2 separate regions of the Homo sapiens genome follow, and region 2 is linked to region 1. The links come from fine-mapping of genetic effects on gene expression. A gene starts in region 1. The other region holds a variant in brackets. All regions are shown on one strand. Distances are between the middles of the regions.

Region 1 (12,045 bases):
AGCATTTCAACCAGGCCCTGATAATGAGGATTTCTCCGCATTATGAAAGGAATGATGGAGTGGTCTGGGGAGGGGACCATACATTCCAGGTTAAGGGACAGCATGAGCAAAGGTAGGTGTACAGATGCTTATAAGAGCAAGGGGCAGCAGGGCGTGGTGGCTCACGCCTGTAATCCCAGCACTTTGGGAGGCCGAGGCGGGTGGATCGCCTGAGGTCAGGTGTTCCAGCTTGGCCAACATAGTGAAACCCTGCCTCTACTAAAAATACAAAAACTTAGCCGGGCATGGTGGTGGGAGCCTGTAATCCCAGCTACTTGGGAGGCTGAGGCAGGAGAATCACTTGAACCTAGGAGACGGAGGTTGCAGTGAGCCGAGATTGTGCCATTGCACTCCAGCCTGAGCAACAAGAGCGAAACTCTATCTCAAAAGAAAAAAAAAAGAGAGCAAGTTACCTGGAATGGCAGTAGAACATAATGTATTGGAGAACTATAGCAAGGGATCATGGCTAAAAATACAATCTGGAGTCTCATCTTAAACAATTCTTACCATATCTTGCTAAGAAATTACAGTTTATTTAGTAGAAGATGAGATGCCAAAGCCAATGTTTTGTTTTTTGGGGTTGGGTCCTAATCTGTTGCCCAGGCTGGAGTACAGTGGCATGATCTTGTCTTACTGCAGCTTCAACCTCCTAGGCTCAAGTGATGCTCCTACTTCAGCATCCTGAGTAGGTACTCTGGGGAGAACACCACCACAACCTACAACAAGCTAACTTTTATATTTTTTTTAAAGATGGGGTCTCACTATGTTGTCCAGGCTGGTTTCGAACCCCTGGCTTCAAGCAATCCTCCTGTCTTGGTCTCCCAAAGTGCTGGGATTATAGGCATGAGCCACTTCCTGGCCTTCAGTTTTTGAGCAAAAGGCTACTTGGGTAGTAGCAACATATCCCAATCCTCACCCTCTGAGCAAGGGCACTCAGTTGGCTTGCCTGGGCTGGGGATACTGGCTCTACTACTTATTTAGCTGTGGACTTTGGACTATTTGCTTAATATATCTGTGCTTTGGTTTCCTCATTTCTTTTTTGTTTTTTTTTTTTAGACAGTTTTGTTCTTGTTGCCCAGGCTGGAGTGCAATGGCGCGATCTTGGCTCACCACAACCTCCGCCTCCCGGGTTCAAGGGATTCTCCTGCCTCAGCCTCCCAAGTAGCTGGGATTACAGGCATGTGCCACCATGCCCAGCTAATTTTGTATGTTTAGTAGAGACGGGGTTTCTCCATGTTGGTCAGGCTGGTCTCGAACTCCCGACCTCAGGTGATCTGCCCGCCTCGGCCTCCCAAAGTACTGGGATTACAGGCGTGAGCCACTACTCCGGGCCTGGTTTCCTCATTTCTAAATGGAAGTTATATAGTAGCAGTTTCTTAAGAGGTGTCAGGAAGATTAAATGAGATAAAACATGTCAAGTGCCCAAAATATCAATTAGCACAAGCCCTCAATAAACATTAGTTTACAGGCTGGGCGTGGTGGCTCATGCCTGTAATCCTAGCACTTTGGGAGGCCAAGATGGGCAAATCCCTTGAGCCCAGCATTCAAGACCAGCCTGGACAACACAGCAAGACCCTGTCTCTACAAAAAAAAAAAAAAAAAAAAAAAAATTAGCCATGTGTGCTGGTGCGGCACCTGTAGTCCCAGCTACCAGGAAAGTTGAGATGGGAGGATTACCTGAGCCCAGGGATGTTGAGCCTATAATGAGCTGCAATCACACTAAACTCCAGCCTGAGCAATAGAGTGAGACCCCATATCAAAAAAACAACAAAAACAAACATTAGTTTATAACATATGTATTACTACTTCAGCCTAGCACTACACAACCAGTAAGATAATACAAGTAGTTCCAAGAGAAGGAAGCAGCAGCAGGAACTACTGACTGTGGATCTGCTAAAATTATAAAAGGAGCAACTGCAGAATTATTGGAGATCTATGTAAATAAAACAGTAGTTTGTATAAACCCTGTGATCTTATTCTAGTTCTGAGTTTAGAAAGGTCACTTTGAGTTGCATCAGTTCATTAATGCCTCAAATTATCATTTTTCAGGGTTGCTCTCAAAAAGAACTCATATGTGATGAATTATCTTTCTACCTCTCACAATGTCTAAAATATTACACTTTGTCAATCAAACATTCAAATTTAAGTGAGTGTTTAACCCTGGGCATTTGTTAAAACTGTATGTTAGCAGAATAACACAAAGCAAAAACCTGTGATGTATGGGTCTTTGCAAGAGGAGAAGTGCATGCTTCTTGAAATTGATCTTCATTAATTCCAATTTCTTTGAGGTAACCTTCTAACAGCTTTTCAACCTAAAAAAACAAAGTTTAACTTTTATAATTACATAGAAAAATTCTACATGACAGTTTGCATATTAAGTATTTAGTTTAGAAAAGTATCATCGAATTTTTTGCAAATATTAATCTACATATTACATGACAGTGACATTGTCTTTCACCAAAACACAAATTAAAAGTTAATATTTTTGCTGAAAATCACATGAAATTGTATTTCTTCTAATAGAAATAGTTGAAGTCAGGATTATGAAGTTCAATGTGGTACAACTCTTCTGCTACCCAGAGGCATTTTTTTTTCTTCTTTTCTTTTCTTTCTTTTTTGAGATGGAGTCTCACTCTGTCACCCAGGCTGGAGTGCAGTGGTACGATCTCGGCTCACTGCAACCTCTGCCTCCCAGGCTCAAGCAATTCTCCTGCCTCAGCTTCCTGAGTAGCTGGGACTAGAGGCGCCTGCCACAATGCCCGACTAATTTTTTTTTTTTTTTTTGGTAGAGATGGCGTTGCACCATGTTGGTCAGGCTGGTCTCGAATTCCTGACCTCAGGTGATCCGCCTGCCCTGGCCTCCCAAAGTGCTGGGATTATAGGCATGAGCCACCACGCCTGGCCTTTTCTTTCTTTCTTTCTTTTTTTTTTTTTTGAGACAGAGTCTTACTCTGTTGTCCAGACTGGAGTACAGTGGCACAGTAATGGCTCACTGCAGCCTTGACCTTCTGGGCTCAAGAGATCATCCTCCCACTTCAGCCTCCCAAGCAACTGGGACTACAGGCACATGCCATCATGACTGATTAATTTTTGTAATTTTTATAAAGATGGAGTTTCACCATGTTGCCCAGGCTGGTCTCGAACTCCTTGGCTGAAGCAATCCACCTGCCTTGGCCTCCAAAGTGCTGGGATTATAGGTGTGAGCCACTGAGCCCCACTGCCAGAGGCATTTTTTAAAATCACAAGACAGGCTGGGCAGTGGCTCACACCTGTAAACCCAACACTTTGGGAGGCCCAGGCAGGTGGATCACTTGAGCTCTGGAGTTCCACACCAGCCTGGGAAACACAGAGAAACGCCATCTCTACAAAATACAAAAAAATTAGCAGGGCATGGTGGTGCACACCTGTAGTCCCAGCTACTCAGGTGGCTGAGATGGGAGGATCGCTTGAGCCTGGGGAGGTTGAGGCTGCAATAGGCTGTGATAGTGCCACTGCACTCCAGCCTGGGTGACAGAGCAAGACCCTGTCTCAAAAATAAAAAATAAAAAAATCACATGACAACCATGACGAAGTGAATAATTAATATGTCCCTGGATGCGTCAACAAAATAAGAATAAGATATAAAGAATACATGCAAGAACCCATAAAGAGTTGTAAAACCATTCCTTAGAGTAGAGGAGATAAGTCATCCAAATGAGATATTCAGAGCACCTGTGGAGACAGATATAACTGGCACTATTGTTAAGGTAGATTGGATTTTTGTAAAATTAAGGATTTTTAATGTAAAAATATTTTTCTTCATTTAGAAAAGCTATAAGTAGTATTAGCCTAATTACTTTTAAAAATCAGTGAAAAAAAATACTCACTAGTTCTTTGTATTCCTGATGAATCTCTGTATAGGTCAATTTGCTTTCTTCTTCATCATCAAAAACTAAATTTAAAAGAAAATATTACATAGTGTAAAAACCAAATCATTTTATTAATGCAAATTTAAAAATCCACTCCTTCCAAATAGAACTGTCAACCTAGCTCTTCAGCTTTGAATTCTTAGGGTTTATCTTTTAAAAATATATAAATGAATATATCTAAAAATATATACTATTGGCCGAGCACTGTGGCTCATGCCTGTAATCCCAGCACTTTCGGAGGCCAAGGTGGGTGGATCACCTACGATCAGGAGTTCGAGACCAGCCTGGCTGATGTGGTGAAATCCCATCTCTACTAAAAATACAAAAATCAGCCAGGCGTGGTTGTGCGCGCCTGTAGACCCAGCTACTCGGGAGGCTGAGGCAAGAGAATTGCTTGAACCCAGGAGGCGGAGGTTGCAGTGAGCCAAGATTGCACCACTGCACTCCAGCCTGGGCGGCAGAGTGAGACTCCATCTCAAAAAAAAAAAAGAAAAAAAAATATACACACACACACACACACACACACACATATATACTATTAATTGTAAACAAGCTTTTTTGCCTACTTGAGAAAATATTTAAAATGAATACTACCTCATATTTAAGACAAAAACACATTTCAATCAATATGAGGCAATAATTTCTTCATAACTTTTAATGTAATATTATTGTTAATGGTTAAATCCTTTTACAATAGGTTCCATATTATTTTATTGTACTGGAATTTTGCTGATGTAAATGTTACTGAAAGTGACCAGGCAATTTTTGTTACCACAGATAAATAATGAAGTTAAATAAAATCAAAACAAGTGTTTACTGAATGATCATATGTATAAAACAATGCAGTGAGCCAAGATCACGCCACTGCACTCCAGCCTGGGCAACAGAGCGACACTCTGTCTCCCAAAAAAAAAAAAAAAAAAGGAGTACAAATACAAGTTATTTTGTTTTTGAACATTGTTAAAAAATTACCTGTAAAAATAACACTTTAATAACTACGATTTGAATATTGATTATAGCAATGAAAATGTAATGAAAAGATTCAGTGGTCAAACTGAATTTCATCTTTACCAGATTCATGATATCTTGGAATTTAAAGAAGTCTTAAAAGGTCATCCAGGATAACCGACCATTTGATAGCTGAATAGCTGAATCCCTCTAACCCTATTAAGTCGCTATCAGATCCATTCAAACACTGCTGGAGCCGGGAAGCTCATTACCTTCTGAGGCTGGCTAACTCATCTTGGATACATTCTATCATGAAACACTTCCTTCACTGAAATTTGTTTCCCTGTAGCTTGTACCAACTGACCCTAGCTCTATTCTACTCAACCTTACAACACAAAGCAGATGTTCAAATAATTGATGAATACTACTACCCTCAAAGTCTTGCCCGATTAAACAACCACAATAACGCTTGGGCACTCATTTATATGACGTGGTTTCTGGTTCCTTTTCTGCGAATGGGCTGCAAATAGTCTCCACGAACTGAATGCAGAACTCCAAGCCTGAAGAACTGCTCAGAACCCGGAGATGCCTGTCCTTCACGGGGAATATTATGCCATATCTATACGCCTCATTTGTTCCAAGAATGGTCCTGCCCCACCTCGCCAATTTTTGGTATAGCGAAGAGTAGAGAGCTCACCAAGGGGAACACAGGCCACCAAAATCACCGGCTCTGGGCTTCCTGGAGTTATCACATGCCCTCCTTTGCAGTTAACTGTTGGTTTGGAGTGAAATCATTTCTCATTTCCTAAGCTGACTACACCGGGCGAAATGCTAGGGATCATAAGGAACTCAGGTAAACCGACGCTTCTCCTCTCAAGTCTGGCAAAGCTGTTGAAGAAGCCCAGCCAAACAGTCCACCTGCCGAGGGCAGAAACGTTCGGGACAGGGTGAGAGACCGAATTTACGATTCAAGTCTAATGTTCTTCGGACGTGCGCTTCGGCCCCAGAGAAGGGGAGTCTCGGTCCCCGTTTTCAGGTCTGCGAAGGAACACATTGGCAGGGTGAAAGGAATTCCTCCCACACAACCAGCTCTAAACCTGATGACGCGGGTGGAGAAGGTGGTGAGGGGAACGAGACCTTGCGACAGGGGTGGAGACAGGGGGTCGGGGAGACGAGAGATGGCTTGTGGTTACCAACCCCCTGCCCGCCGCTGGTGTGAGAGAGGAGAAAAGGATTGTCGGTTCGGGCTCTGGTTTTTACCTTCACATTTCTGTTCCACAAAGTCCAAGATGGGGATGGACCAGTCTGGGCCTCGCAGGAACCCCGCGATGCTCTCCACTACCCACTCCACCTCGTCTTCTTCTTCCGCAGCCATCCCGCCCCAAAGGGGCAACGGGGAAGATCCCTAGGCCAGACCGCCGGACCCCGGTTAGGCCTTTGGGCCACAAGGAGCCGAGAGGGAGTAGGGGAAGAGCTGGCCCGCAGTCGCTCAGCCCCCAGGATAGAAGCTACCAACCAGTTAATGCAAAATGGTCGCTATGGCAACACACGTAGCCGCCCTAGACCGCGGCCCGGAAGTGAAGACAACTTTCCAGGAGCCTGCGCACTTAGCGGGGAGGGCAAACGTTTGAAAAACGTTTCTGATTGGTTAAAAAAGAACAGTGGACGAGGGCTGAGAAAAGAAGTGTAGCTATTGGCTGGAAGTCATAGACAGATTGCGCTCTCTCTTCTGATAAATGCGTAGGAGCCAAGGTTTAGAAAACGCGCAGTAGACGGGCGCGGTGGCTCACGCCTGTAATTCCAGCACTTTGGGAGGCCGAGGCTTGCGGATCACCTGAGGTCAGGAGGTCGAGACCAGCTTGGCCAACATGGTGAAACCTCGTCTCTACCAAAAATACAAAAATTAGCCTGGCGTGGTGGCGCCGCCTGTAATCCCAGGTACTCGGGAGGCTGAGGCAGGAGAATCGCTTGAACCCGGGAAGCCGAGGTTGCAGTGAGCCACTGCACTGCAGCCTGGGAGACTGCGTCTCAAAAGAAAAACAGGAAGAAAGAAAAGAAAAAAGAAAAGGCTCAGTGAGGGTCTGAGGTAACCGGGTCTCCACCTGACAGGGCTTCAGCGGCTGCAGTTCATCATTGTATCCCCAGCACCTCAGTCCCAACCATTTTCAGACCATTGGCCCAGAGGCGTTTGTAATTAAAGGGTTGTCTGAAAATACAAAGCCGAGCTGTGTGAGACTCGCTGATTGTCTTACGGTCAGTTTGCATCTGTATCTTCAGGCGGGTCTTTAATCTCTTACGCTTGGATAAAGATAACTAGAATTAGGAGCTTTTCAAGGGCAAGAGCAAAGTTAATACTCACTTAAATAAATGCCTTGGTAACCAAATCTTATTATAACTCCAACTCAGCATTTAGGTGGAGTCCATTGTGGAATGGGGTCTTCAGTGGTCATTGTGAAGGTGTTTGGAGTCCCAAAATATCTTCAGACAACCATATATATATATATATTTTTTACATAAATAGGATTATATGTACAGTTATGAATTTTTTTCTTATATCTTTATCTTTTAAAAATATAAATTTGTGCTTTCTTTGCAACTGCATAGTATTCCATAAACCATCCTTTAGTCTATTTTTATTTTGTGAATGTGCACACAGTATCTTACCTGAATGCATGAAGATGATCATTATGTGCCTTTTTTTTTTTTTTTTTTTTAGACAGAGTCTCGCTCTGTCGCCCAGGCTGGAGTGCAGTGGCGTGACCTCAGCTCACTGCAACCTTAGCCTTCTGGGTTCAAGAGATTCTCCTGTGCCTCAGCCTCCAGAGTAGCTGGGATTACAGGCATGTGCCACCACACCCAGCTAATTTTTGTAGTTTTAGTAGGGACAGGGTTTCGCCATGTTGGCCAGGCTGGCCTCGAACTCCTGACCTCAGGTGTTCCGCCTGCCTCGGCCTCCCAAAGAGTTAGGATTACAGGCGTGAGGCACCGTGCCTGGCCATGTGCAATTTTTTTCTTTTTCCTCCTCCGTGCTGTGGATTTGCCATTTTTTGCTTCCACAAACTGCTGTTATAAATGTTGCATCCTGAGAACTGTTGGTTTTATTTACTATTCCAAGGGATAGATTCCAGCAGAATTGCTAAATGAAAGAATATATATCTTGGTTAATTTGACCAAACCTCAACTGCTACATTAAATTACTTGAATTTTTTAAACCCGTAAACAATTGTGTAATGAATATACTTGCACATATGTTTTTGAACCCTAGTCTCATTATTTCCCTCGAACAAATTCTCATGGGAAAATTACTGAACTAATTATTTTAATTATTATTATTATTTTTTTTTTTGAGACGGAGTCTCGCTCTGTCGCCCAGGCTGGAGTGCAGTGGCGCAATCTCGGGTCACTGCAAGCTCCGCCTCCCGGGTTCGCACCATTCTCCTGCCTCAGCCTCCCGAGTAGGCGGGACCACAGGCGCCCGCCACCACGCCCGGGTAATTTTTTGTATTTTCGGTACAGACGGGGTTTCACCATGTTAGTAGCCAGGATGGTCTCGATCTCCTGAGCTCGTGATCTGCCCGCCTCGGGCTCCCTATTTTAAATATTTTTAAAAAATAGTCTTTGCCAATCTACTAGGTTAAAATGATAGCCCCCCCCACAGCCCTTTTTTTTTCTCGAGACAGAGTCTCGCTCTGTCACCCACGCTGGAGTGCAGTGGTGACATCTTCGCTCACTGCAACCTCCACCTCCCGGGTTCAAGCGATTCTCCTGCCTCAGCCTTCCAAGGAGCTGGGATTACAGGCACCCGCCACCAAGCCTGGCTAATTTTTGTATTTTTAGTACGGGCAGGGTTTCACTATGTTGGCCGGGCTAGGCTGGTCTCAAACTCCTGACCTCAAGTGATCTGCCTACCTCGGCCTCCCAAAGCGCTGGGATTACAGGCATGAGCCACCACGCCCGGCCTCATCCACACTCATTGTTCAGCATTAGAGTCTTTCTTTGTCTTCAGTCTCTTCCAAATGCTTCTCAATTCCACTGGAAGCAGATAACTATGATGTAAGAGTTTTCCTTTCTTTTATTTTCTTAGCCTTGTTTCTAAATCTCTAAATCTAAATGGGCAATGTGGATTCCTTCAGGCCTGCAAGTTCTCTCATTTGTTTCAAAATATTTTATTATTTCATTTTCTCCTTAAAACATAAGGCTTTTCTTTTTATTCATTGCTTGAGATTCTTATAAGCAGGATGCTTACACAGATTTGAGATAATGTATTCAATACGCTTATCATAAAATAAACTCAGAAGAACAGCTTGCACACTGTTAGAGCAATGCATATGGATGTACTGGGGCAAGAGTAAGAAGATAGCATGGGTGTGTGTTACGCATAGGTCATTTAGCAGTGTTTTCAGTGTTTCACAGTAATGCAAAGCACAGTCATCTCTTGGAAAATCACAACTTATTTTGGCAATTTTATTACTCCTTTTACTGTTCTTACCACATAGGAACAAATTTTAATGTTAAAGATATGTATAACAGGCCGGGTGCGGTGGCTCATGCCTGTAATCCCAGCACTTTGAGAGGCCAAGGTGAGTGGATCACTTGAGGTCAGGAGTTTGAGACTAGCCTGCCCAACATGGCAAAACCTCGTCTCTACTAAAAATTAGCTTGGCGTGGTGATGGGCGCCTGTACTCAGCTAATTGGGAGGCTGAGGCAGGAAAATCGCTTGAACCTGGAGACAGAGGTTGCAGTGAGCCGATATTGCACCTCTGTACTCCACCCTGGGCAACAGAGTGAGACCCTGTCTCCAAAAAAAAAAAAAAAAGATACATGTAACAAAACTAAAATAGATGCACACACATAAATAAATATATATACACAGTACATGACACACATACACACACCAAGCACTTTTACCATGGGGTTGATAAAGGCTAGGATTACAGGCGTGAGCCACCGCGCCTGGCTGAGAACACATATTAAAAGTACTTGGGATTATGCTAGGTACTTAGTAAATGCTTAATACATATTAGATATTGTTATTGTATGTAGTTTAGGTATCGGTTTGCTTAAAAATTTGCAGCATGAATGCAAGGAACTATTCATTTTATTTTGCCTCTTCTTTCAATGACAAATCATTTGTGTTTTTTGCTGCAGCCCTAGGAAATCTCTTGCTTCTCCCCATCCCCTGTACTGATACTGAGTGTCTGCCCTACTAAAGGAATATAAAATTCAAATCGTAACAACATGACTGCATTTTCAAGGACCTTGTGAATAACAATTATTCACATTTATATAGTACTTTACAGTTTACAAAGAGATTACATCTATTTGACTTACAGCAAACTTGTGAGCTAAATAAAGATGATATTAAGATTTTCTCCCTCTTTTAAATGGTGTATTAGTTTGCTAGGACTGCTATAACAAATTACCACAGACTGGGTGGCTTGAGCGGCAGACATTTATTTTCTGAAAGTTCTGAAGTCTATGTCTCTGATCAAGTTATTGGCAGGGTTGGTTTCCTTTGAGGCTTCTCGTCTTGGCTTGCAGATGGCTGTCTTCTCCCTGTGTCTATACCTGGTCTTACCCCTATACAGCCTATGTACTAATCTCCGTTTCTTATAAGCATATCAGTCATATTGGATTAAGGCCCCCTAATAACCTCATTTTAACTTAATTACCTCTTTAAAAACCTTATCTCCAAATATCGCATTCTGAGGCACTGTGGACTATCACTTCAGCATATGAATTTGAGGGTAACACAAATTCCACACATTAACAGATGGAAGAACTGAGTCTGTGAGGTCAAGTGTCTTGCCCAGGCTCAGAGCACAGTCAGGACTTGTTTTCTGTACTAGACACCTAAGCAACAAGGAAACTTCTAATTTTCACTTTCTGATATATCATGGAATTTTTTCCACATCATTGAAAACACTTCTACATAATCCTTTTTAATATTACCTAGTTTCCCATTGTGTGATCATAATTTATGTAAGCAATCCTGCATTGATCTAAGATGTTTCTTGCACTTTTTAAAAAAATATGCCTGGGAAACATAGCGAGACCCTGCCTCTGCAAAAGAAAAAAAAAAATTATCCAGGAATGGTGGCAAGCACCTGTAGTCTCAGCTACTCAGGAGGCTGAGATGGGAAGATTGCTTGAATTCAGGAGTTGGAGGCTGCAGTGAGCTCTGATTACACCACTGTACTCCAGCCTGGGCAACAGAGTGAGACCCTGTCTTAAAATAATAATAATAACAACAATAATAATAATTCTACTATGAGCACCCTTGTAATTAAATATTTGCCACTAACCTTTATCATTTTGTGAAGATGAATTCCTAAAAGTAGAATTGTTGAATCACACATTATGCGGCTTTTAAAGATACTTCTACTTACTTTTTTTAAGAGTTAAGTATTGCACCTCCTACAATAATCATGGTTAAATGTTAAGTAGTTATCTTTTTTATAGTAGTGTTTTATATTCATGAGTCTACACATCCATACACATGCACAGATATATCTCAGATAGTTTGGATATTGCAAAATTAATCAAGGAAAGACTATTGTGAATTCTGGAGGAGGCTGACTCATTAATTTCACGAGTGGATCTCCAACTCCAACACAATGTTTGGCACTGAGAAACCCTCATTGAATATTTGATGAATATCTGAATGATAATCTAAGAATATAGTGCCTTACATTTGCCTAAAAATAATCTATTTATCTTTGCTGCCCCTGGGAGAGATGGTAAAGTTGTAACTACTGCAAAACAGGATTTCATTTTGTTTTAACACTAACAAAACATGCTTACATTCTAGATCAGAGGGCTTAAAGTAACTATTAGCAATAGGCTTAAAAATACCCACACAATGGAAGTGTTATTTTAAAAAATAATTTATAGACCGTATAGAACGTCACTAATGAATTCAGCTTTCAAGAGCAGGAAAAAGGTCACTGCTTTAATCCTGTTAATTGCCTTTATTCTGGCTCTAGAAATTTTAGAAGTTCTAAATTATAAGTTCATTGCAAATATTCTTATTTGATTATTTGGCTCATATAACGGCAAAGGAATAGAGGAGGTTTCCATGGGTTGGCAAATAAATAATTACCTGTCATATTTTGAAATTCTCCCAATGAGTTGTTACCTTTTTCATTG
Region 2 (12,045 bases), 130 kb before region 1:
GTATTTCCTTTTTTGTTTTAGTTTATTTGAGACAGAGTCTCACTCTGTCACTCAGGCTGGAGTGCAGTGGCACCATCTTGGCTCACTGCAACCTCCATCTCCCAGGCTTAAGTGATCCTCCTGCCTCAGTCCCCCAAGTAGCTGGGACTACAGGCACCACCACACCCCGCTAATTTTTAGATTTTTTACAAAATGGGGTTTTGCCATGTTGTCCAGGCTGGTCTCAAACTCCTGGGCTCAAGCAGTCTGCCTGCCTCAGCCTCCCAAAGTGCTGGGATTACAGACATAAGCCACTATGCCCGGCCTGATATTTCTTTAAGTCTTTTTAAATCTATACATTTCTCCTCCATTACATTCTTTTTTTTTTTTTTTTTTTTTTTTTTTTTTTTTTTTTTTTTTTTTTTGCAGTCTATCTATTGAAGCCCCATAGCCATTTGACTTATAGTCTCCCACAGTCTGGGTGTTGCTGATTGTACACTCATGGTGCAATTCAACATGTTCCTCCCCCCTCTCTATTTCCTGCAAATTGACCGCTAGATCCAGAGGTTTAATCAGATTCCTGCTCCATCCACTGCATTTAAGAGCGGTGGCTCATGCCTGTAATCCCAGCACTTTGGGAGGCCGAGGCGGGCGGATCACCTGAGGTCAGGAGTTCAAGACCAGCCTGACCAACATGGTGAAACTCTGTCCTACTAAAAGTACAAAATTAGCTGGGCATGGTGGTGCATGCCTGTAATCCCAGCTACTTGGGAGGCTGAGGCAGGAGAATCGCTTGAACCCAGAAGCAGAGGTTGCAGTGAGCCGAGATTGCACCATTGCACGCCAGCCTGGGCAACAAGAGCAGAACTCTGTCTTAAAAAAAAAGAAAAAACAAAAAAAAAATTCTTGTTAATCTGGAATTACAGATATTTGGGGGAATTTTTTTTTTCTGTTTTAAAAAAAGGGTCTCTGTTCCACAGGCTGAAGTGCAGTGGTGCAGTCTCGGCTTACTGCAACCTCCACCTCCTGGGTTCAAGCAATTCTTGTGCCTCAGCCTCATGAGTAGCTGGGATTACAGGCATGCGCCACCACGCCCTGCTGATTTTTCTATTTTTAGTAGATACAGGGTCTCACCATGTTGGCCAGGCTAGTTTCAAACTCCTGAGCTCAAGTGAGCTGCCTGCCTTGGCCTCCCAAAGTGCTGGGATTACAGGCATGAGCCACTGCGCCCGGCCTGAAATTACAGATTTTTATGGGAAGTCTTCCTATTGTCAAATGATCACAACTAATTCATATTCCTTCAAGGTAACATATCCACCAAATAAAACAGTTTGCAACCACTGGCTAAAATAAAACCCTTATGGAAAAGAGCTGTTTCCTCCATACATTTTTGTCATTGTGTTTTGCTTGAGAAATACTTCAAAATATGCAACTTTCCCATTCATGTATTTTGTTTCATATCTGAAAAAGTTAGTGGAGAGAGATAACTCTAAAAAGTATCAGTGTAAATTAAATTTCAATTTAGTGAAATAAATGTGGGCTTTGCTATGGAAAAAAATCTGTGATTCTTCAATGTGTACTTTTTAAATATGTACATATTTTTACTTATTACAAAAATATAACGTTATTGTTAATAATTTAAATGTAATGGAAATTTATGGTGTAAATCCCCATACCCATCCAGTTCCCACATCCTAATCCATGTACACACTTGAAATAGCTACTTTTAACCATTTGGTATGTATGTTAAATTTATATCATACGTTTTCTGTATATTTATGAATGTACTTTTTTAAAAAACAAAAATGAGATTCTACTGTTCTATAAGTTGTTTTATTATTTTGGTAATATAACTTGGACATCTTTCTATGTCAATTGTATATGTGTGTTTGTGTTTTTTTTTTTTTAAGTTTCCTCCTTATGCAACTAATGAAATTGGCAAAGTCACTGGTTTAAATAGAAGAGAACTTGGGCATGGTAAGTACAGGTCTGTAAACTTAATACGGTATTCTTACAGAGACTTAATACATTTTTTACTTATTGTTTTCTATTCTAATTTAGGTGCTCTTGCTGAGAAAGCTTTGTATCCTGTTATTCCCCGAGATTTTCCTTTCACCATAAGAGTTACATCTGAAGTCCTAGAGTCAAATGGTATGGTATTGAAATACTTCTTTCATAGTAGAAAAGACCATATTCCCTATTCTATTATTAAGTTTTCAAATGTAATGTTACATTTTGTTTATTACTACAGAACCCAAGTTTGTTGCAAGAGAAAAATGTATTGAGTTAATCAAATACTTGTCTTAATCTCTGTTCTTAGCTAATGAGTTGTTTTGAAAGCAATATAAAACAAATGTTTTTCTTTATCTGTTATAGTAGATCCAGTTTGGCTTGTTTCTTTATTTTTACAAACAAACCACAGAACAAGGTTAACAGAGAGAGGAAGGGCCAAAATAGAGTGATCATTAGGCAGGAGATACCTGTCACATATCCACATGAATAATAAGTGTACATCACAGAGGGAGTCTAGGCCAAGAGGTCACATTTAAATAAAAAATTTGTCCATGGGTCAAGGTACGGTGCAGTCATTAAAGGCAGAAAGGTCATGGAGTTCTTAAAGGTGTAACAGACGTAAATCAGATAGTCACAGATTTTGAGGAAAAAATACCAAGGTAAACTCAGAATTTTAACTAAAGACTTTGTGGTTCTCTACTGGGTGTGACTAAATTAATGGGCTTATGAGAATGAGAGAGCCAAAGCCCTATATCTTTAACTACTTCTGATAAGCAAGACAAAAGATATGCACTAGGAAGTCTATTAGAATATCTGTAGCAATACTATGCAATAGAACTTTTTGTGATAGGCTGGGCTTGGTGGCTCACACCTGTAATCCCAGCACTTTGGGAGGCCAAGGCGGGTGGATCATAAGGTCCAAAGGGTCTAACTTGGTGAAACTCTGTCTGTACTAAAAATACAAAAAATTAGCTGGGCGTGGTGGCAGGCTGAGACTCCATCTCAAAAAATAATAGTAAAATAAAACTTTTTGTGATGATAGAAATCCTCTTTATCTGTCCTATCTAGTTGAAGAATTAAATTTATTTTAATTGATTTAACTTTAAGTCACCACTTATGGCTAATGTCTACCATATTGGACCTTGCAGCCCCATAGTTTATAGCTTAAAAGACCTTGCCTTAGTTGCTTTTAAAAAGAAGAGACTATTGAATATTTGTATTGTAACTGAATATTTATAAGGAAATAACCAATAGTAACACTTTTCTACATTAAAAAAATCAGTTTAATATAAAGCAGTTATTTTTCTTTCTATAGGGTCATCTTCTATGGCATCTGCATGTGGCGGAAGTTTAGCATTAATGGATTCAGGTAAAAGAATTATGTCTCAAAACTGCTGATATTGCTCATGCCTGTAATCCCAGGCATGAGCCTTGGGAGGCCAAGGCAGGAGGCTCACTTGAGGCTGGGAGTTCAAGACCAGCCTGGGCAACATAGCAAGACCTCATCTCTACAAAAAAGATTAAAAAAAAATGCTAACCTTTTATACACACCTGTTAGTATAAAATATAAGATTTCTTTAAATTTGGGTTTTAGTAAAACTCAAAGTCAGATTACAGATGGCCAAATCAAGCCAGAGGCAAGATGGCTGAAAAGTAGAGCTTCAGATATCCAGATATCTGCTGGAATTCTTATTTTTAGCTAAAAGCAGTACACTGAAAAATTTTTATTTGCATTGGTGACCCAGTAAACTTTATTTCCTTCCAAAAGGTAGAGAGCTCCAGAATTGATTCCAATCACCAAGGAAGTTTTGATTAGTAAGTACTATTAGGAATCATAAGAGAAAGCAACTGTAATCTTTCAGTCGATTTATACAAGCCAAGAGAACAATGCCACTCAGGCGTGTACACACAATTTTAGGAAGGCGGACTACAAATGTTTCATTATAATCCCCAGGTCTGAAACGCCAAAAACGAAAGCATTATGCTAGGAGATTTTTTTTTTTTTTTTTTTTGAGACAGAGTCTCGCTCTGTTGTCCAGGCTGAAGTGCAGTGGTGCAGTCTCGGCTCACTGCAACCTCCGCCTCCCAGGTTCAAGTGATTCTTCTGCCTCAGCCTCCTGAGTAGCTGGAATTACAGGTGCGTGCTACCACGCCTGGCTAATTTTTGTATTTTTAGTCGAGACGGGGTTTCACCATATTGGCCAGGCTGACCTCGAACTCCTGACCTCGTGATCCACCCACCTTGCCCTCCCAAAGTGCTGGGATTACAGGCATGAGCCACCACACCTGGCCGCTAGGAGATTCTTAAAACCAATTCGTGCCAAACTGTCATGAATGCTGCTATTCGAGAAGAAAGAGAGAAGGAACCTAAAGACACTAAAGAGGCCACAAAAGGATTTCTCTGATAACTTAACACATTTACAGTACTGGCATGAAAGATAGAAAAGAGGGCCGTGAATAACAAAGGATTAAATGAAAACATGGTTTGAATATATAATAATATTATCTAGAAAAATTGAAACTAAAAACAGGCCAAAGCAAAAAATGCAAAAGGTACTTTTGTAATTTATTCAATAAAGGAAAACATAATCTGATATTTAAGGTAGCTGGTAAAATACTGCTGCTACTATTTTCATCTTCATTCTTTCACTCTACAAATCTTTACTTTGTGGCACCTATGTGCCAAGCACTGATCTAAGTTGTTAGGACATGGTGATGAACAAAACAGTCTTAGACTTCATGGCACTTGTGTTTCTCAGTCTTCCAAATCTCATACTGGAAAACACTGAACAAATCTTGAAAAAAGTAAACTGAAAAATAAAAGATGACATCATAGGGGAGTCTTTACCTGCCATTTTTAAATGAATTCAGATCTTTTGGTCTAGACAAAAACTCATCCTTGACTATAATGAGAACTTCAGGATTAGATTACTGAAGTATGATGGCAGTCATTGAGAAATCGTGGAGACTAGTATCCCAAGGACAGAAAACGTTCTTATTATTGGAAGAGAAGAAAAGTATTTTCTATAAAGTATAACCCAATGAACTTGATCGTGACCCTCAACAAGACTCTTAAGAACTTAAAAAAAGAATGGTTTATAAGTAGTTTAGAAAGGAAAGGGGCCAGGCACAGTGGCTCATTCCTGTAATTGCAGCACTTTGGGAGCCTGAGGTGGGTGGATCACTTGAGGTCAGGAGTTTGAGGCCTGCCTGGCCAACATAGTGAAACCCCGTCTCTACTAAAAATACAAAAATTAGCCGGGTGTGGTGGCCCACGCCTGTAATCCCAGCTACTTGGGAGGCTGAGTCAAGAGAATCACTTTAACCCAGGAGGCGGAGGCTGCAGTGAGCCAAGATCGTGCCACTGCACTCCAGCCTGGGTAACAGAGTGACTCTGTCTCAAGAAAACAAAAAAGGAAAGGGACTACAGAAAGAAGCCAGAAGGGACTTCTCTAAAATAAGTCATGCCATAGTTAATTCACTTTCTGTTTTGAAGAAATTACTGCATTTGCAGTAGAGGGTATTGCTGTTGGTGTGATATATCTATAATTCAGCTTTACGGTTTATGATATCTTTATGATATCTTGTGTAAATGATGCAGAAATTTAGACTAAATAATAGGTGCACCATTCATACTGGTTAAGGGATGAGCAAAGGGACTGCTTAATCTGATCAACAGGTCAGAGAATGATCTCAAGTTGAAGACGTGAGGATGCTTATTTCAGCCCTGTCTCTTTCAATGTTGACTTGACTGAGAACACTGGCCTGCCAGTAAAAATACTGCCAATAAAAATACTGATTAAAAGGAATGGGTGACTGACAAAATTGAGCAGGATAAAAAAATATGGAGCTTAATAGTTTAAAAATTAAATTTGAAGCGTTAAAGCCAAAAACCTCAAAAAAATTAAATTTGATAAGAATGAATGTCAAGTCCTGTGGGATGGGCCGATACAAGGTATGCAGTTCAATTCAAATATGAATTTGAATTGCTAGAGTAGGGCTTGCCCTGCCCTAAGTCAGGCACTGTCCTATGCCCCAGGGATGCAAATTGTACCCAGTTTTTGAAAAAGCTTAAAGGTTTGAAAACAAAAAGATACTAATAGATTGAAGAGGTAATAATACAAATATGTGTAAGGGTGATTGTTGAACTAGGCTGAGCATAATTGGCTGAGAGAGACTGCTACATTTCATCTGATTTTAAAGGCTGAGTAATTGTTGACTGGGCATATTAGGAGCAGGGCCTGTATTTCACATGAAAGGACCAGCATGTGCAAAGTTAAGAAGTTACAGTGTAGTGTGTTTCAGGAATCTACTCGAAAGAGGTGTTAAGGTAATAAAGTAGAACCATATGTTGAAGGTTATTGTTTTTTTTTTTTTTTTTTTGACTTTCCTTTTTATCTTTGTCTTCTCTTTATTTCCTAGTTGTTTCTAGTCAGAGGAAGGATAGCTTTATACAGAAATAGGATTTTTTTTTTTTAATTTTTTTTTTTTTTT[TA/A]AATTGATCATTCTTGGGTGTTTCTCACAGAGGGGGATTTGGCAGGGTCACAGGACAATAGTGGAGGGAAGGTCAGCAGATAAACAAGTGAACAAAGGTCTCTGGTTTTCCTAGGCAGAGGACCCTGCGGCCTTCCGCAGTGTTTGTGTCCCTGGGTACTTGAGATTAGGGAGTGGTGATGACTCTTAAGGAGCATGCTGCCTTCAAGCGTCTGTTTAACAAAGCACATCTTGCACCGCCCTTAATCTATTCAACCCTGAGTGGACACAGCACATGTTTCAGAGAGCACAGGGTTGGGGGTAAGGTCACAGATCAACAGGATCCCAAGGCAGAAGAATTTTTCTTAGTACAGAACAAAATGAAAAGTCTCCCACGTCTACCTCTTTCTACACAGACACGGCAACCATCCGATTTCTCAATCTTTTCCCCACCTTTCCCCCCTTTCTATTCCACAAAACCGCCATTGTCATCATGGCCCGTTCTCAATGAGCTGTTGGGCACACCTCCCAGACGGGGTGGTGGCCGGGCAGAGGGGCTCCTCACTTCCCAGTAGGGGCGGCCGGGCAGAGGCGCCCCTCACCTCCCAGACGGGGCGGCTGGCCGGGCAGAGGGGCTCCTCACTTCCCAGTAGGGGCGGCCGGGCAGAGGCGCCCCTCACCTCCCGGACGGGGCGGCTGGCTGGGCGGGGGGGCTGACCCCCCCACCTCCCTCCTGGACGGGGCGGCCGGCCAGGCAGAGGGGCTCCTCACTTCCCAGTAGGGGCGGCCGGGCAGAGGCGCCCCTCACCTCCCGGACGGGGCGGCTGGCCGGGCGGGGGGCTGATCCCCCCACCTCCCTCCCGGACGGGGCGGCTGGCCGGGCGGGGGGCTGACCCCCCCACCTCCCTGCCGGACGAGGTGGCTGCCGGGCAGAGACGCTCCTCACTTCCCAGACGGGGTGGCTGCTGGGCGGAGGGGCTTCTCACTTCTCAGACGGCGCGGCTGCCGGGCGGAGGGGCTCCTCACTTCTCAGACTGGGCGGTTGCCGGGCGGAGGGTCTCCTCACTTCTCAGACGGGGCGGCCGGGCAGAGACGCTCCTCACATCCCGGACGGGGCGGCAGGGCAGAGGTGCTCCCCACATCTCAGACGATGGGCGGCCGGGCAGAGACGCTCCTCACTTCCCAGATGGGATGGCGGCCGGGAAGAGGCGCTCCTCACTTCCTAGACGGGGTGGCGGCCGGGCAGAGGCTGCAATCTCGGCACTTTGGGAGGCCAAGGCAGGCTGCTGGGAGGTGAAGGTTGTAGCGAGCTGAGATCACGCCACTGCACTCCAGCCTGGGCACCATTGAGCATGGAGTGAACGAGACTCCGTCTGCAATCCCGGCACCTCAGGATGCCGAGGCTAGCGGATCACTCGCAGTTAGGAGCTGGAGACCAGCCCAGCCAACACAGCGAAACCCCGTCTCCACCAAAAAAATACGAAAACCAGTCAGGCGTGGCGGCGCGCGCCTGCAATCGCAGGCAGTCGGCAGGCTGAGGCAGGAGAATCAGGCAGCAGTACCGTCCAGCTTCAGCTCGGCATCAGAGGGAAACCATGGAGAGAGGGAGAGGGAGACCGTGGGTAGAGGTAGAGGTAGAGGTAGAGGTAGAGGTGGAGAGAGGGAGAGAGGGCAGGATTTTTTTTAAGTAAGAATTCTTTACCAATCCTTCTTTCCCCAACATAAAATCTCCTATTTGAAGTGGAGTTTGAGGTAGGGACTCGAGAGGCAGTGCCTCAAGAAAGCCACACATTGTACAATCTGAAGGTTATTGTTACGCTAAGGAGTTTGGACTTAAAGCCAGCATTTTTCCAATTCAGTATTCCATGGAATAGTGTTCCACAGGACATTGATTATTGTATACCATGAAAAAGTTTATTCTGTTCTAAAGTTAAGTTTCAGCAGGGTTAAGCAGGTTTATTTAATATGGATTAAATAGACTTTAATAAGCTAATCCGAATACTGACTCTCTAGGAATAGGACATGTAATATTTTTCCAAATTTATTTGACCACAGAATATGTACAAAAATTTCCTGAAAGTAGGCAATGGGGAACTTGAAGGATTTTATGGAAAACAGTGGCATGATTTGAATCTGCTTTTGTTTTTTCCAAACAGTTTTTCCCAGCTTAAGTGATGAATAGCCCTGCGGAATGAGATGGGAGAGACTAAGAAGCAAAGAGAGAAAGTAAAATCTGGGAAGCCAGACAGGGAGATTGTTGCCAGGGCAAGAAATGATATGGACTCAGACTAAAAAGTTACAATAGGTATTTTAATATTTAGGGTAAAGGACAGCTTTCTAAAAAAATAAACAGATCTTTGTGACTTGATGGGATATAGGAAATGAGGAAAGAAATGTTGATTCTGGCATGAGTGTCTTAGTTGCTTTCAACCAAAGAATGCAGGAGGAAAAGGATTTTTTGACAGTGATTCAATTTTGAACATATATGTATTTCTTTCATCATCATCATTATTATTATTTATAGAGATGAGGTCTCAATATATTGCCCAGGCTGGTCTCAAATTCCTGAGTTCAAGTGATCCTCCCATCTTGGCCTGCCAAAGCGTTGGGATTACAAGCATGAGCCACTGGGCCTGGCTCAATTTTGAATATATATTTAAGGTGCTTTGGGGACATTTAGCTGGAGATGTCTGACAGGGAGTTTACTAATACAGGTCCAGGGTTTGGCACAGATAGCTGGACAGGAGGGATAGATTTTTAAGTCATCAACATTATAGATGGTGGTTAAAATCGTAAGTATAGATGAGGTTGCTTAGAGAAAATGAAATGAGATCCACACTCCTTTATACCAAAGTAAATTCCAAGTGATCAAAACTTAAACATTTTTAAACAAATGAAAGATGGTAGGTTTTATCAAAATCTTGGAGAAGAAAAGCTCTGCTAAGCAAAACCCAGAAACCATGATTACGTAAACTAAAAATCCTACACAGAAAACTAATGACCATAAGCAAAGTCAACGAACTAGGAAATAAAATATTTTATTTATATGTTATTAAACATAATATTTTATCTTTACATTTTAATAAAGCTCTGTCCATATTGAAAGAAAATCAGTAATAAAAAGACTGCCAACCAAGTAGAAAAGTGTTGAAGGCCATGAACAGGGAGTTCTCAAAATAAGACATATAAATAGGTTTATGAACATGAAATAGTTTTCAACCTCAGTCATAAAAAACAAGTCAGATTTAAAATAACCATTTTTTACACTTTAAATTGAGAAAAATCAAAAGATTTGACAAGAATTAATAAGAATATAGAGTAGCATATACCTTCTTACACCACTGGTAAAAGTTTAAAATGCTATGTCTTTAGAAGGCAGTTTGACAGTCTAACAAACGTAAATGCACATACCTTTTGACTCAGCAATCGCACTTCTGTGTGTGACTTGTAAAACATACAGGGAGTACTAAAACTATTCAAAGGAATAAAGTAGAGCTTTGTGTGGTGGTATGTGTCAATATCCAAGACATGTTATTAAGTGAAAAAGGCAAGGTGCAGAACAGTAAATGCATACAGTCTGCCGCCACGAGTAAAGAAAACAAAAGATTATATTTACATTTATACTTGTGCACAGAAATTTTCTAGGAGGATACACTAATGTTAGCTGCCATGGGGAGGTAAACTGAGGAGTTCAGGCTGGAAGAATTTACCAAATAGATGCTTACTTTCCAACAAAAAGAAAATAAGACACCTGAAGCAAAAAAGCAAACCAACGGATAATTTAAAAGTTATAAAGTTTGCTATTGTTAGAGAAGTTTTTGCTGGATATAGTACTTGTTTACATTGTTTTAGGGAACTTTATTATATGTTCAAAAACAAACGAAGTAGTCAGATGACCTCTTAAGACTTCCAACTCAGCTTCGGTGATTGTCAATTTAGGCAACAATATCCACTTACATTAAAAGTAAATGTCTGCTGGGCGCGGTGGCTCACGCTTGTAATCCCAGCGCTTTGGGAGGCTGAGGCTGGCAGATCACCTGAGGTCAGGAGTTCAAGACCAACAGGGCCAACATGGTTGAAACCCCATCTCCACTAAAAATACAAGCAAATTAGCTAGGCGTGTTGGCGGGTGCCTATAATCCCAGCTATAGGGGAGGCTGAGGTGGGAGGATTGCTTGAACCCAGGAAGCAGAGGCTACAGTGAGCCAAGATCATGCCACTGCACTCCAGTCTGGGCAACAGACCGAGACTCCCTCTCAAAAAAAAAAAAAAATTGATAGATAAATATTTGTTTTAGGCTCATGTACACATTACCCACAGTTGTTCTTTTTCCCAATTATAGGGGTTCCAATTTCATCTGCTGTTGCAGGCGTAGCAATAGGATTGGTCACCAAAACCGATCCTGAGAAGGGTGAAATAGAAGATTATCGTTTGCTGACAGATATTTTGGCAAGTATATTCTCGGTTTCAAATATTTAATAATGAAGACTAAAAATAAATAAATAAAAATTAAAAGATAAAAACAAATAATGGTGAAGACTATATGTACTTTGCACCTAGCGTATGCTTAGAAGAATGCTAGTATTTGAAGAACAGGTACTTGTTCTTCCCTTCCTCCTCTGCATGTTCACCTTGTATCTTATAGGATATGAATTTAAAATAGATATTATATTAATAGTAATAGGCCAGGCACAGTGACTCATGCCTGTAATCCCAGCACTTTGGGAAGTCAGGAGTTCCAGACCAGTCTGGCTAATGTGGCAAAACTCCATCTCTACTAAAAATACAAAAATTAGCCTGGGCATGGTGGCACACACCTGTAATCCCATCTACTTGGCAGGCTGAGGCAGAATTGCTTGAACCCGGGAGGCAGAGGTTGCAGTGAGCCAAGATCGTGCCACTGCACTCCATCCTGGGCAACAGAGCAAGACTGTGTCTCAAAATAAGTAAAATAAAATAAAATAAAATGATTACTTTAAAAAAATAGTAATACTTACCCTTAAGTATTGCAGTAATACTTACACAGTGTAAGTATTCATAATGACTCACTTTAGGATGAGCATAAATTCATTCTCAGGCATTTATGAGGGAAAGGAATGATCTAAAAATAAAATGATGTTTCTGGTGAAAATAATTGTAGCTTAAAAAGTCACAAATTGGAAGTGGTAGTTAATGTAGAAAACATTGCTTTGTGTTTGGACTTAGGATATGGTTTACTTCTAAAGCTGTTTTTTGAAATGTTTCTACAGTGAATATGTTGACTTTTGTTTTTGTTTAAAACTATGTCATAACTTTTTAAATTCCTGAAGGGAATTGAAGATTACAATGGTGACATGGACTTCAAAATAGCTGGCACTAATAAAGGAATAACTGCATTACAGGTATTTTTAAAACCCATTTTGTTTCATTTTTGTAACATTTAAATAATGCCATGAGTCAATATTTATATAATTGTTTGACTTTTCCATATTAGGCTGATATTAAATTACCTGGAATACCAATAAAAATTGTGATGGAGGCTATTCAACAAGCTTCAGGTGAGCTAGTGTGCTTGATTCTCCCTTCATTCTTTTCCACTTT

The links.
Region 2: its variant is fine-mapped to the expression of CFAP36 in whole blood (INTERVAL, PIP above 0.99). The same link has a PIP of 0.9 or more in CD4 T cells, Th17 cells and Th2 cells.

What each region holds. Positions count from the first base shown.
Region 1 is chr2:55,514,027-55,526,071 of GRCh38, reverse strand. CFAP36 (cilia and flagella associated protein 36) reads right to left here and starts at 6,354. Exons shown (of 10, transcript NM_080667.7): 1 at 6,156-6,354; 2 at 3,906-3,970; 3 at 2,250-2,351. The coding sequence starts at 6,270. RefSeq lists enhancers at 5,574-5,823, 7,004-7,053.
Region 2 is chr2:55,646,216-55,658,260 of GRCh38, reverse strand. PNPT1 (polyribonucleotide nucleotidyltransferase 1) reads left to right here. Exons shown (of 28, transcript NM_033109.5): 16 at 1,890-1,956; 17 at 2,041-2,130; 18 at 3,308-3,361; 19 at 10,808-10,914; 20 at 11,775-11,846; 21 at 11,939-12,002. Among named protein-coding and RNA genes, the nearest start is that of PPP4R3B-DT, 34 kb to the right of the region's middle. RefSeq lists an enhancer at 7,590-8,202. The variant TA/A (reference allele first, on the strand shown) is at 6,487.